Homo sapiens: one gene and its partners. The protein of the gene in region 3 purifies or fractionates together with the protein of the main gene of each other region. This does not show direct contact. Each region holds a gene or a part of one and is shown on either strand. Other genes may lie near its edges.

Evidence for each region.
Region 1: the proteins of TLCD5 (region 3) and RHBDD1 purify together in Homo sapiens (affinity purification with mass spectrometry; one large-scale study listed by BioGRID and IntAct). This does not show direct contact.
Region 2: the proteins of TLCD5 (region 3) and PLEKHB1 purify together in Homo sapiens (affinity purification with mass spectrometry; one large-scale study listed by BioGRID and IntAct). This does not show direct contact.

Annotation. Positions count from the first base shown.
Region 1 is NC_000002.12:226,859,981-226,863,631, reverse strand, and holds part of RHBDD1 (rhomboid-related protein 4), read right to left. Parts: intron 1-3,651. UniProt on the Homo sapiens protein: Intramembrane-cleaving serine protease that cleaves single transmembrane or multi-pass membrane proteins in the hydrophobic plane of the membrane, luminal loops and juxtamembrane regions.
Region 2 is NC_000011.10:73,653,079-73,656,729, reverse strand, and holds part of PLEKHB1 (pleckstrin homology domain-containing family B member 1), read right to left. Parts: intron 928-3,651; coding exon 823-927; intron 1-822.
Region 3 is NC_000011.10:120,323,773-120,327,523, reverse strand, and holds the start of TLCD5 (TLC domain-containing protein 5), read right to left. Parts: upstream 2,226-3,751; 5' UTR 2,156-2,225; intron 403-2,155; exon of another isoform or gene 149-402; coding exon of another isoform or gene 83-148; coding exon 1-82.

The DNA of each region.
Region 1 (3,651 bases), on a different chromosome or scaffold from region 3:
CAGTCACCCTGAAGGTCCTTGCCACTGGTCAGCTACTACTCCAGAGGTGAAGCTGTCTAGCTGACCACAGGTATACAAGTGAGTCTCGCTGAGCCCAGCCTAATTTGCTGACCCACAAAACAGTGAGCTAAATAAATGGTACTTGGTTTACTTCACTGAGCTTTGGAGTGGTTTGTTATGCAACAACTACTAACTAATACAGAAGGTATTGCCTTTCGCGAGTGCTGTGGTTTAGGTGTTTGTCCCTCCAAAACCTCATGTTGAATGAATGAATGAATGTATTTATTTATTTAGAGCCAGAATCTCACTCTGTAGCCCAGGCTGGAGTGCAATGGCATGATCTTGGCTCACTGCCACCTCCACCTCCTGGGTGCAAATGATTCTTATGCCTCAGCCTCCTGAGTAGCTGGGATTACAGGCATGTGTCACCATGCCTGGCTATTTTTAGTAGAGACTAGGTGTCACCGTGTTGGTCAGGCTGGTCTCAAACTCCTGACCTCAGGTGATCCGTCTGCCTCAGCCTCCCAAAGTGCTGGGATTACAGGCATGAGCCACTAGGCCCGGCCTCATGTTGAAATCCGATCCCCAGTATTGGAAGTAGAGCCTAATGGGAGGTGTTTGGGTCATGGGGGAATATCCCTCATGAAAAGATGAATGCCCTCCCTGGGGTCAGGGGATGAGTGAGTTCTCACTCTTATTAGTTCCTGCCAGTGCTGGTTGTTAAAAGAGACTGGCACCTCCCCACTCCCTTGCTTCCTCTCTCATCACATGATCTCTGCACATGCTAGCTCCCCTTCACCTTTCACCGCAAATGGAAATGGCCTGAGGCCCCCACCAGATGCTCAATCTTGAACTTTACAGCCAGTAGAACTGTGAGCTAAATAGACCTCTTTTCTTTATAAATTACTCAGACTCAGGTATTTATAGCAACCCTAAACGGACTAAGCCAGGGAGGGACTGTTTCATGCTCATGAGAAGAAGCTAGTAAGGGAAGAGATGCAGGCAGAGACACAGACTAAAGATGCAAGAGATAAATAAAAAGGATCAAGTGCTTGGAGGGAAGAGTCTTTTCCTCTTAACAGAAAGAAAAGAAAAATCAGGTGTAGCTATTAGGGGCAAAATGTTGAAAAAGTTCTCATCTAATGGTTTCTGCTTTCTCTGTGGAGATTAATTGGCCCCCAACCAAACAGGTAACTCACTCTAATACCCTAAGGATTCTAACTTGGACTGCACACTGGACAATGCATGAGTTTTAGAGTTAAAAAAAAAAAAAAAAAAGGCAGGATTCTCCTATCTTCTAGCTCTGTGACCTGGGGCAAATCATTTAAACTTTCTGAACTTCAATTTCCTCCCTTTAAGAAACATAAAACCTCCTTCCCAGGATTACTGTGACATGCTTGGAACAAAAGAGATGCAGAATAAACAGTAGCTACTACTTTCATTTCTATAAAGTAAACTTACTTATGTGAGAATTAATTCCTTTGCAAATGGTAACATCCTAAAAAGACTCAAATGTACTCCTATGCCCCCATATGGATTCTTATTATCAACATCACACCAAAACAATGTTCAGAAAAAAATTATGCATGTGTATATATATATGTGTATGCATACACACACAAAATTAGCCATATACATACACGTGCATGCACACACACATTATTGGCAAAACCCCATGTATTAGCACAACCCGTTTCTATATTGTTATTATTGTAGCTCTGTAGCATTCTTATGAACTAGAGAATTTAATGAAATTTAAACTGAAATGCTCCCACATAACTTTGGATAAATGGCCTATATTTTTCACATTAGAACTCAAGTCAACTTTCAACTCTTTACCTACCGTAACTTTTTTGTAATTCTCCTAAATTTATCAATATGTGTGCACACGTGTGCCCACACACACACACAGAAATATTTATGTTACATATATCAAACATTATTACCTTTAACAGGAACAATGGAAAAACTGGCCTTGATCATTGATCAGTAAATAATCAGCTTACAAGAAATCACAAAATAAACCCTTCAATATCATTGCCAACAGTGTCTTATGATGCTGGGCTTTATGTAGCAGAAAATCAAAACTAACTACATCTTTGCTCAAGAAAAACTTGCCCCTCAATTACAATCATTAGTAATGAAGAATATAGATAAAAGGACAGAATTCCCAGTCTTACTTCACACTGTGTCCCAGGCTCTGATTGCACTTTCCTGAGTTACTTCTGGCTGGATGAAAAGGTGTCTTTCTGTCTGCATCCCTTCGCACCTCCCAGCTCTCCACTGTTGACTGCTCCTGCTTCTGTGGGACACCTTGCTCTCCTGAGGCTTCACTCCTCCTTCCAACCCGTTTCTCTGCTGTTCACTTCTCCTCTATCCCTACTCTCTCCTGCACACACTCAAGGGCTTCCACTTTAATGATTTTTGTAATTCTTTTTATCAGGATGATGCCCAAATTTCTATTTTTCAGCTTTGATTTCTCAGGTTTCAGGGACGTAATCTTAGAAGAAGATATAGTTTGCCTGATGTCTTGGTTTCTGAAAACTGAATTATCCTTTCTCACAGAATGATGATTCAGCCATTCCTTCTTTCACTCATGTATTTAATAAACATGTATCAAGTGCCATATGCATGCCAGTCCCTGTGCCAGGCACTGGAGGTACAGCAAATAACAAAACACTTATATTCCCAGCCTCTAAATGGCCTACTTCTATTTGTTGAAGGAAATAAAAATATTGTCCACAGGAAATCAAAAGAGAAGTAAAATTGTGTGGCTTGGCTTCTCAGTAAATGTATACTTAATGCGAAAGGAGATATAACCATAGCCAATGTGAGAAGTGCCCGTCTTTTGGGCTCCACCTTTGTAAACAAAGGCCATTAGAGTCCCAGTGTAGGTAGAACATACGTTTTGAGTCTTAAGTAGTAGCAAAGACCAATCAGTCCTAGTTCATAACAACTCTAGGGCAGTTTCCTTCCTAATCAGTTACCAAGTCAGCCATCCAAGGTGAGGGATGCAACCTGTCACAAGACAACTTAGAAAATCCAACTGATCCATGTAAAGATCAAATCTGTAACCTGACGCTGTGGGCCAGGGAGGCACGGCTCTAGGAACACCAAGGAAGACAGATCACAATAAGTGAGCACTGACTATAAAATGAATATTGTTAATGTCATGCCCATCAAATACATAGAAATTTTTAGAGTGCTGTGCTATCTGAAAGACCACAGAGGCAACATCAATTATAGCAACTTATCTGTGAACTGAAAACCTGTAAAATCTGTTGGGTTTTGGAAATGGTTTATGTATTATTCTAACTTGTATCCAGACCACAAGCCAGTTACCAGAGTTCAAGAAAGGCCAGTCCCTGTGCTCCCTTACCTTACAAACACACCCTCCCCACCAGACTCAACATGCCCCAAGCTGAACACTGGACTGTCCCTTCCAAATCAGCTCCTCCTCTCATGCACCCCACCTCAAGACATGGGATTTCCATCTATCCAGTTGTTCAAGCCAAAGACATAGAAAGATCCTTGACATGTCTTTTGACCTTAACCTTATCACCCTGCTACCCCCAAATCCTATCCATCAAGTTTTATTAATTCTTCCAAACAGTTTTTTTTTATCAATCTACTTCTTTCTAGCTCTAGGGC
Region 2 (3,651 bases), about 47 Mb from region 3:
GTGTAAGATGAGCTCAGAGTTGACTATAAGATCACAGGTACTCTCACTCAAGCCCCCTCCTGCCACCCACCCCATGCCAGGCCCTGTGCTGAGTTCTGGGGACAGAGAAAAGATTCAGGCCAGATCCTGCCTTCAAGAAACATTGAGGGTGAGGGGAGACAGACCTAGACTAAATTAGACTATGTAGTAGTATTGCTATAAAGGAAGTTTTTCACTCCCTCCTTCCTTCCTTTGCTCACTCAGTGAACATTCCCTGAGCCCCACTGTGTAAGAAAGGTCAGCATAGACTCCCCATCATCGAGCACTAATTGAGCATGTGCCATTTACCTAGCCTTGTGCCAAGTTCCATAGAGGCAGCGCAATCAGGCCTCATTCTTGCCTTGGAGGAAGTTCTAGGCCTCATGGAAGACTACACAGACAGGAATAAACCAGCTCTGAAACCAGGCAGAATGAAGAAAGCACTAAGCCTTGGTGCCGCTAGGCTGAGGGAGGGAATGACGATGCCTAGTGGTCTAGGAAGTCCCCACTGAGTAGGTGGCAGGCAGCCTTTGAGGTGGGCCTTACAGGATGAGCATCAGTTTGTCAGGTGAATGAGGAAACTGAGGTCTTGTCAGCAGAGGGAACAGCATGTGCGAAGGCTGGCAGAGGGAAAAGGTCTGGTGTGGCTGGGGACAGAGGGTACAGCAGAGCAGCTGGTTTGTGTCCTGTGGGTGATAGGGAGCCATGGAATGTTTGTCACAGGGAAGGGATGGACTGGGCCTGGTTTTGGAGGCTCATCCTGGTGGCCAGTATGGAGGCAGGGAGGGCCGAGCCAGCACTTACCCAGATCCGCCTCTCAACCTTACAGGGGCTCCACGAGCGGGTCACACACCTGACCTTGGAGCAAACCCGGCGGCTCCTGGGAGGGACGGTGGCTCCAGCTGGGGCCTGCTCAAGCCACAGAAACCCAAGAAGGAGGAGGGAGGGAGGGGGTGTCAGAGGCCCTCTACACCTAAAGAGACTCAAGAGCTCTTTCCAGACCCTACCAGAGCCCTCCGCCAGCTGGGCTGTGGCAGGGAGCATCCTCTTTCTCCTCAGCTCATGGTAACGGGGGAGGCTCAGAGAATGCTGATGACTGCCAAAGTTACGCAGAAAAGAAGGACAAGTAGTCTCTTTCCAGAATTAGCCCACCCTCCCCTATTTCATCCTGCTGGGGTTCCCAGTCTCCAGGGAGGACAGGGCGACTCCCTTCTGTCCTCTAGCCCACCTGGTCCGCTTCACCCCAGCCTCGTCCCTAGCTGTGCCCCCAGGCCCTGTGTTCCCAGTAAAGCTGGTGTTAGGGGCTCCTGGAGCCTCCACCTGGAGTGAGGTATGAACTCCAGCATGTCGGAGGACAAAGGGCAGGTCATTCCCACACAGGCTACAGAGAGAAGCCCATAAACAGAGGTGAACACACAAAGATAGGTAGACACAGGCACAAATACACCCCGACTCTAGTAAGCCCGGGCACAGAAGGACGTGTATATGTGGAGTAGTGGGAGGTAGAATAGAGGCCAGGGCAGAGAGAAGGGTCAGCAGAGCCACAGGAGATGGACAGGCAGAGAAGGACGAGGCCGCTTCATAGAGTCACAGAGTGCAGACAGTCACCCTTGCCTCCTTCCCTCCGCCTCTCTTTGGTGGAACTGACTTGCCCCACATAAAGAGGCTTTGGAGCTCAGAGCCAGGGTAGCCTGACCTGGGTCCCTCCACCCTGCAGACTACTGCTGTAGCCTCCTTACTCCCAGCTTTCTCCAATTCACCCGCCACTTGGAAGCCTGAGTCTGCTCCCCAAAATCTGACCACAGCCCTCGCTGCTGAATGCCCTTTATTGCTCCCTACAGGCCTCAGGGAAAGTCCATTTCTTCCAACTGGACTTTGAGGCCCATCATGAGCTGGCCCCGATGACCTCAGAGGTCATCTCTCCTGTTTCATTCGCCTCATGAATTGCTCTCCAGCCAGGCAGACTCTGGGCCCTTAGACGCATGCATATGTGCATAAGCACTTGTGCACACACACATGTGCACACATCACTTCTCTGTCTCTGCTCATGCAGCTACTTCTGCAGATAACGCCCTCCTCTCAAAATCTCACTGACCTAGGTTCCATGGTAGGCTTTTCCACTGACTTAAGAGTATAAGCTTTGGACAAGTCACCTCCCCTCTCTGAACCTCGGCTTCCTTATCTGTAAAATGGGACTAATAATACCAACCCCCACCCAGCTGCCCTGCCAGGGTTGTTGGAAGATGAAATGATGTCACTGCTGCCAGGGGCTTAGCATGATGCCTGGCACTCAGGACGTGGATGCCTGAGGAGGTTTCTAAATGCATCCAGGTCTCCCCTGCTACTTCCCAACGGACTTTCTCTATAGGTGAGAGGGGGCTCCATTGTGCCATACAGAGAAAGAGCAAGCACAGATTCTGGAGTCAGGCAGATGGGGGTGGAGGCCAAGCTGGGCTTTGGGCGGCTCTTCAAACCGCCACTTCCATCAGTCACAAGCTCTGTTGACTCCATCTCCTAAATATGTCCTGTACTCATCAGCCTGTCTCGGCCAACAAGGCCTTAATCCAGATCTCCAGTCTGTTGCCCGGACACTGTCCCAGCCTCCTAAGTGGCCTCTGGGTGTCTGCAGTTACCCTCTATAATCCATTCCCTACCTACCAGCCAGACTATCTTTTTTTTTTTCCTTTTTTCTACAACAAAATTTCATAAACTGACAGACTACCCCCTTTTTTTTACATGCCCCAACGTTACAACAATTATCTTTTTAAAAATATAAATTGAACCTGATCTGATCATGCCATCCCTCTGTTCAAAAACTTGTCATGGCTCCCTGGTGCTCTTAGCAGAAACCAACATCCTTCATACAGCCCACAAGACCTGGTCGTGCCAACCCTCCTTCCCTCCTTACCCACTCACTCCCTAAGCACCAGCCACCCCAGCTGTCCTTCTGTTCCTCAACTTGCCAAATGTCTTAACCTCTCTCAGAGCCTTGGCACATGCTGATCCCTCTGCCTGGAATGCCGTGCCCTTTACCCGATCCCCACACCTTTCACCCAGTCAATTTCTGTTTATCCTTCAGTCCTCGGTTTAAGCCTTGCCTGAACTACCACCTGGATGAAAGGGCCAGACACTGCAAATCTCTGTCAGAGCTGTTATTACTATTGAAATGGAATAATTAATTAGTTGTTCCATGTCTGGCTTCTCATTAGGCTGAGTCCAGGTGGGCAGAGCCCATATCTCCTTGGTTCACCTCTGATCCCTGGCACTTGGCACACCACCTGGCCCATAGTAGCAGCTCAGTAAATATTTGTTGTGCGGATGAATGAGCTTCAGTCTTATCATCTGCAGAGAGAGAACAATAACCCCAACTTCACAGGACTGTTGTGAGGAGCAGCTGGAATGATACCTGCACCACACCTGGCACATAATAGTTGCTCGATAAAAGACAGTTCCTTCTCCCCAGCTCATGTGCCACTCCCTCCAGCAAATCTCCATGGAGGCTTCTCTCTCTCCTCTGAGCACCAGTTGGCTCTCCCTTATCCTTTCCCCGAACACTTGGGACTCAGGCATCAGAGTTTGCAGAAACCTATCCACATAAGACTGAGAACTTCTGGCAGGTGGAGACCGAGTCTG
Region 3 (3,751 bases):
TATTCAGGTGGCAGAAAGAAATATAGAGCGAGAGCCAGCCACACAGGCTGCACAGCACCTGCAGACACAGAGCTAATGCCATCCTGTGATGAAAAGACCAAAACCAGAAAAACAAAGGATGCACCCTAAGAAAACAGCACTGGGTCATTTTGTGTATATATCCTCATTTCTATTATAGAATAGTTCAAAAATATTGCCTTATCTTATTTTCCTTATCTACACGGCCAAGAATCTTCTATTTAAGTATGGCTGTATTTATCATTCCAAGTTCCTCAGAGATAACATGTTAGCAACTGGTCAATGTTGTAAACTGGAAACCAGGAACTGCACTCCGAGCTGGTAGGCTGACATCACATTTTATGATGAGTAAATGTCAATAATAACCCTCTAGCGATGACTGACCTTGGGCAATAATACACAGAAAATAAAGCACATGTATTAAATAATGTCTTCACAGTTCAAAAACCCCAATGAAACGCACTCATGAAAAAACAGAACACTGCCACGTTGGTTTCTGCTAGAGGTCACATGACACATGGCAGTTTAATGTGGTTTTAAGCTGATACTAAATTCAGCTGAGGTTTGGATTTGGGTCACAGGTTCATCAGTCAAAAACAAAACTTGGGATAAACTTAAATACAGAACTAAACAAAGAGTCCAGACATCTTGGAGGTTGGGGGGAAATCCTGGCTTTATTCAGTTCTGAAATCCGACCCAAAGATTTGCCAAGAGTGAAGCAGAAGGATTCTAAGGTTCAAGAGGAGGGGAGTTTTTGTTGAGATCTAAAAATATCCTTAAGGCAATTATTCAGTTAAAAATGAAATGAAGCCAGAAAGCTGTACCTTGGAACTTTTACTGGTGACAAATACGTTAGGACAAGAACAACTATAACTGAGTCAATTTAGTCACACAGGACTAAAATCTAAATGAGCAAGATGTTGTTATTAGTTAGTATTCATTAGCTCCTCCATTGAAACGTACAAATAAAAAGTCAAAAACATATCAGATATCTACTTCATCTCAGCAGACATTTTCTGCATGGCTATGCTTATTGCTTAACCTTATTCTGACCAGTGAAATAGTTATCTGTGGACGTCAATACACAAGCCACTTCCCAAGAATGCTATCCAGAGAGGGCTTCATGAAGGTCAAGTTCTGTACAGCTTTCATCTGAAATCAGATTTCCATTCAAGAAAACCGTAGGTGTCCATAATAGACCTGGGTTCCAATTCTGTCTCTGTCCCTAGAGAGACTAGCCATAAGAGTGTGGGCAAATCACTTTAACCTCTAGAACCACAGTTAAAAAAAAAAAGAAGAAATTAAAGAAAAGAAAAGAAGGAAGAGGAAGGGGAGGAAGGGAAAGGAAAGAAAGAGACTAGGACTGAAGAACTCTACAGTCCGGTCCAGTTCTGACATGGAGTTCTGAGATAAACTTTGTAAAACATCAAGGCCAATTCTCAGAGTAAGGGCCAGAAATACAAAGTATCCCAGGTGAAGAGAACTGCCCTCCCTTATCTCCTTCTAAAGGCCAGGGTCACTGGCCAGTAATGCGGATCAGCTCATTTGGATATGCCTATTAGTATTTTTAGAGTCTTCTTCTCTGAATCCTAATTCCTTGGCAGAACAGAGAAAACAGTAGCCCATTTACAAACACTTAAATAAAAGAACAGACATTCGTAAATGGCAGACACAACTCTGTGACCTTGGGAACTCCCTGTGTGGGTTTCGGCTTTTTGCTCTTGGTTTTTGCCAAAGAACGGAAGGGCATTTGGAAGGCCATCGCGGCTCAGAGGTCCAAGGCTCCTCTCCTGGTTTCTCCCGTTCCAGGGCCAGACTGGCGAGGAGGAGCCTTGGAGCAGGCGTGGCTGGCGGCGAGCGCGGGCCCCGGGGCCTCGCAGGGACGGCGATCGCATCTCCGCGCGGCGGTGCCTGCGACGCTCGGCCACGCCCGGACCAAGAGCCGGAGCCAGGCACCGTTATCCCCGCATCCCGCTGGCGCCGCAGCCTGGCGCAGGAAGGCCTCGGGCGTCCGAGGCAGGAGGAGGCCCGCTCCCCTTCGGAGGCGAGCCCGGGCCCTCTGCCGCCTCCTTCCCCACCAATGGGCCGCGCGGGCCCCGTGCCCACCCCGGCCGGGCAGTTCGCGCCGAGCGGTTACCTGGCGGAGCGCACCGGGAAGCCTCGGGCGCCCGGGCGCCCGCAGCTCCCGGCCCGGATCGCGGCAACAGGAAGCGGAGGAGCCAGAGGCGGAGGACGAGGCTGTGACGGCGGCGGAGGAGGAGCCGGGGGTCTGGGGGCACCTGCTGGCTGGGAGGATGGAGCGCAGAGCCGGAGCCGGGCCACCGACGCTCCGAAAGGGCGCGGGAGGGTCCTCCTTCTCTGGCGGGGGGGTCAAGAGGGATCTAGCGGTGACGTGAGACCTGGAGGCCGCTGCTCTTGTTTAGCTGTTGTTGTTTGTTTAAATCATTATCCACTTCTCCCCTCCCCTCAATGGGACAGCTCATCCAATCAATTTATCGAGTACCTACTAAGTACTTGCACCCTTACTAGGCATTGTGGGGGATGTAAGACATCGTTCTTGCCCTCGTGCTTGAATTTAAGTCGTGAAACAGGAATTGATGAGCAGGAAAGTGCTCAGGCCTGAGAATTAGAAGTTACAGTATTCCAGTCAGCCCTGTAACCAACTTGACAGTAAAGCATAAGGCTTGAAAGTGAACCTTGCTTGGTACCTCTTTGGGCAAGTTACTTTTCTGTTGCCTCCCTTTCCTCGATCCTGAGGATGGGGATAGTAATAACACCTATCTCATATGGTTATTTTGAGAATTTTAAAATATTACATGTGTAAAGTGCTTTGAACAATGACTGGCACATGGAAGTCACTACATAAATACCAACTGTTTTATTTCACTTTGGGTAAATCCTTTTCTTCTCTGGTTCTATTTTAATACCAAGCAGAGTAAGTTTGAGCGATAAGAATGGAGGCTCGAATGGGGTAAAGACGGTGTCTGTCTTGATTGATCAGGACAGGCAATCCCGGGTGCTGAGGAACCTAGACATTCTCAAAGGAGAAGACCGTTAGCAGAGGTGTGAGTGTTTAGGCCGTGCCTGGGGAATAGTAAATATTCTAGTTTTGGTCATTTATCTTACCAACTCTTCAAAGGTAAGGATGGCACTGGTTTCATCTTTGTTTCCCTAGTACCTAGCATGAGGCAGGTACAATAAATGTTTGTATGTTGAATTAATGTGAAATGAGCCTGGGAAACTATCTTGGAAGCATATCACAGTTCCTAAAGTGTGTTGATCAACTATGCCACTTGGGAAGTGTTTTCAAATACCCTGTGCAGGCTGTACCTTGAATATTATGATTTATTAGGTCTGGTATGGGGTCCAGGGATCTGTATTTTTTAAAACCTGCCCAGGAGTCATTCAGACGATCACATTTGATAACCATTGCTGTTAGAGTCCTTAAATGCCTCTGATGCCAGCCTAAGATGCCAGGCTGAGAGAGCTTATTATGTGGAAGCTCATGATGTTATTGAACAAGGGAATCATATTATCATGCTCTCCAAGCCCTTGCTACTCAAAGTGTGGTCTATGGACCAGCAAAATCTGCATCACCTTGGAGTTCATTAGAGACTCAGAATCTCAGAACCTACCCCTGGACCTACCAAACTAGAATGTGCATTTTAACAAGTTCCCCAGTGATTCGTATACACATTTGGGTCGTAGTTCTTAATCTTGATAGCATGGTAGT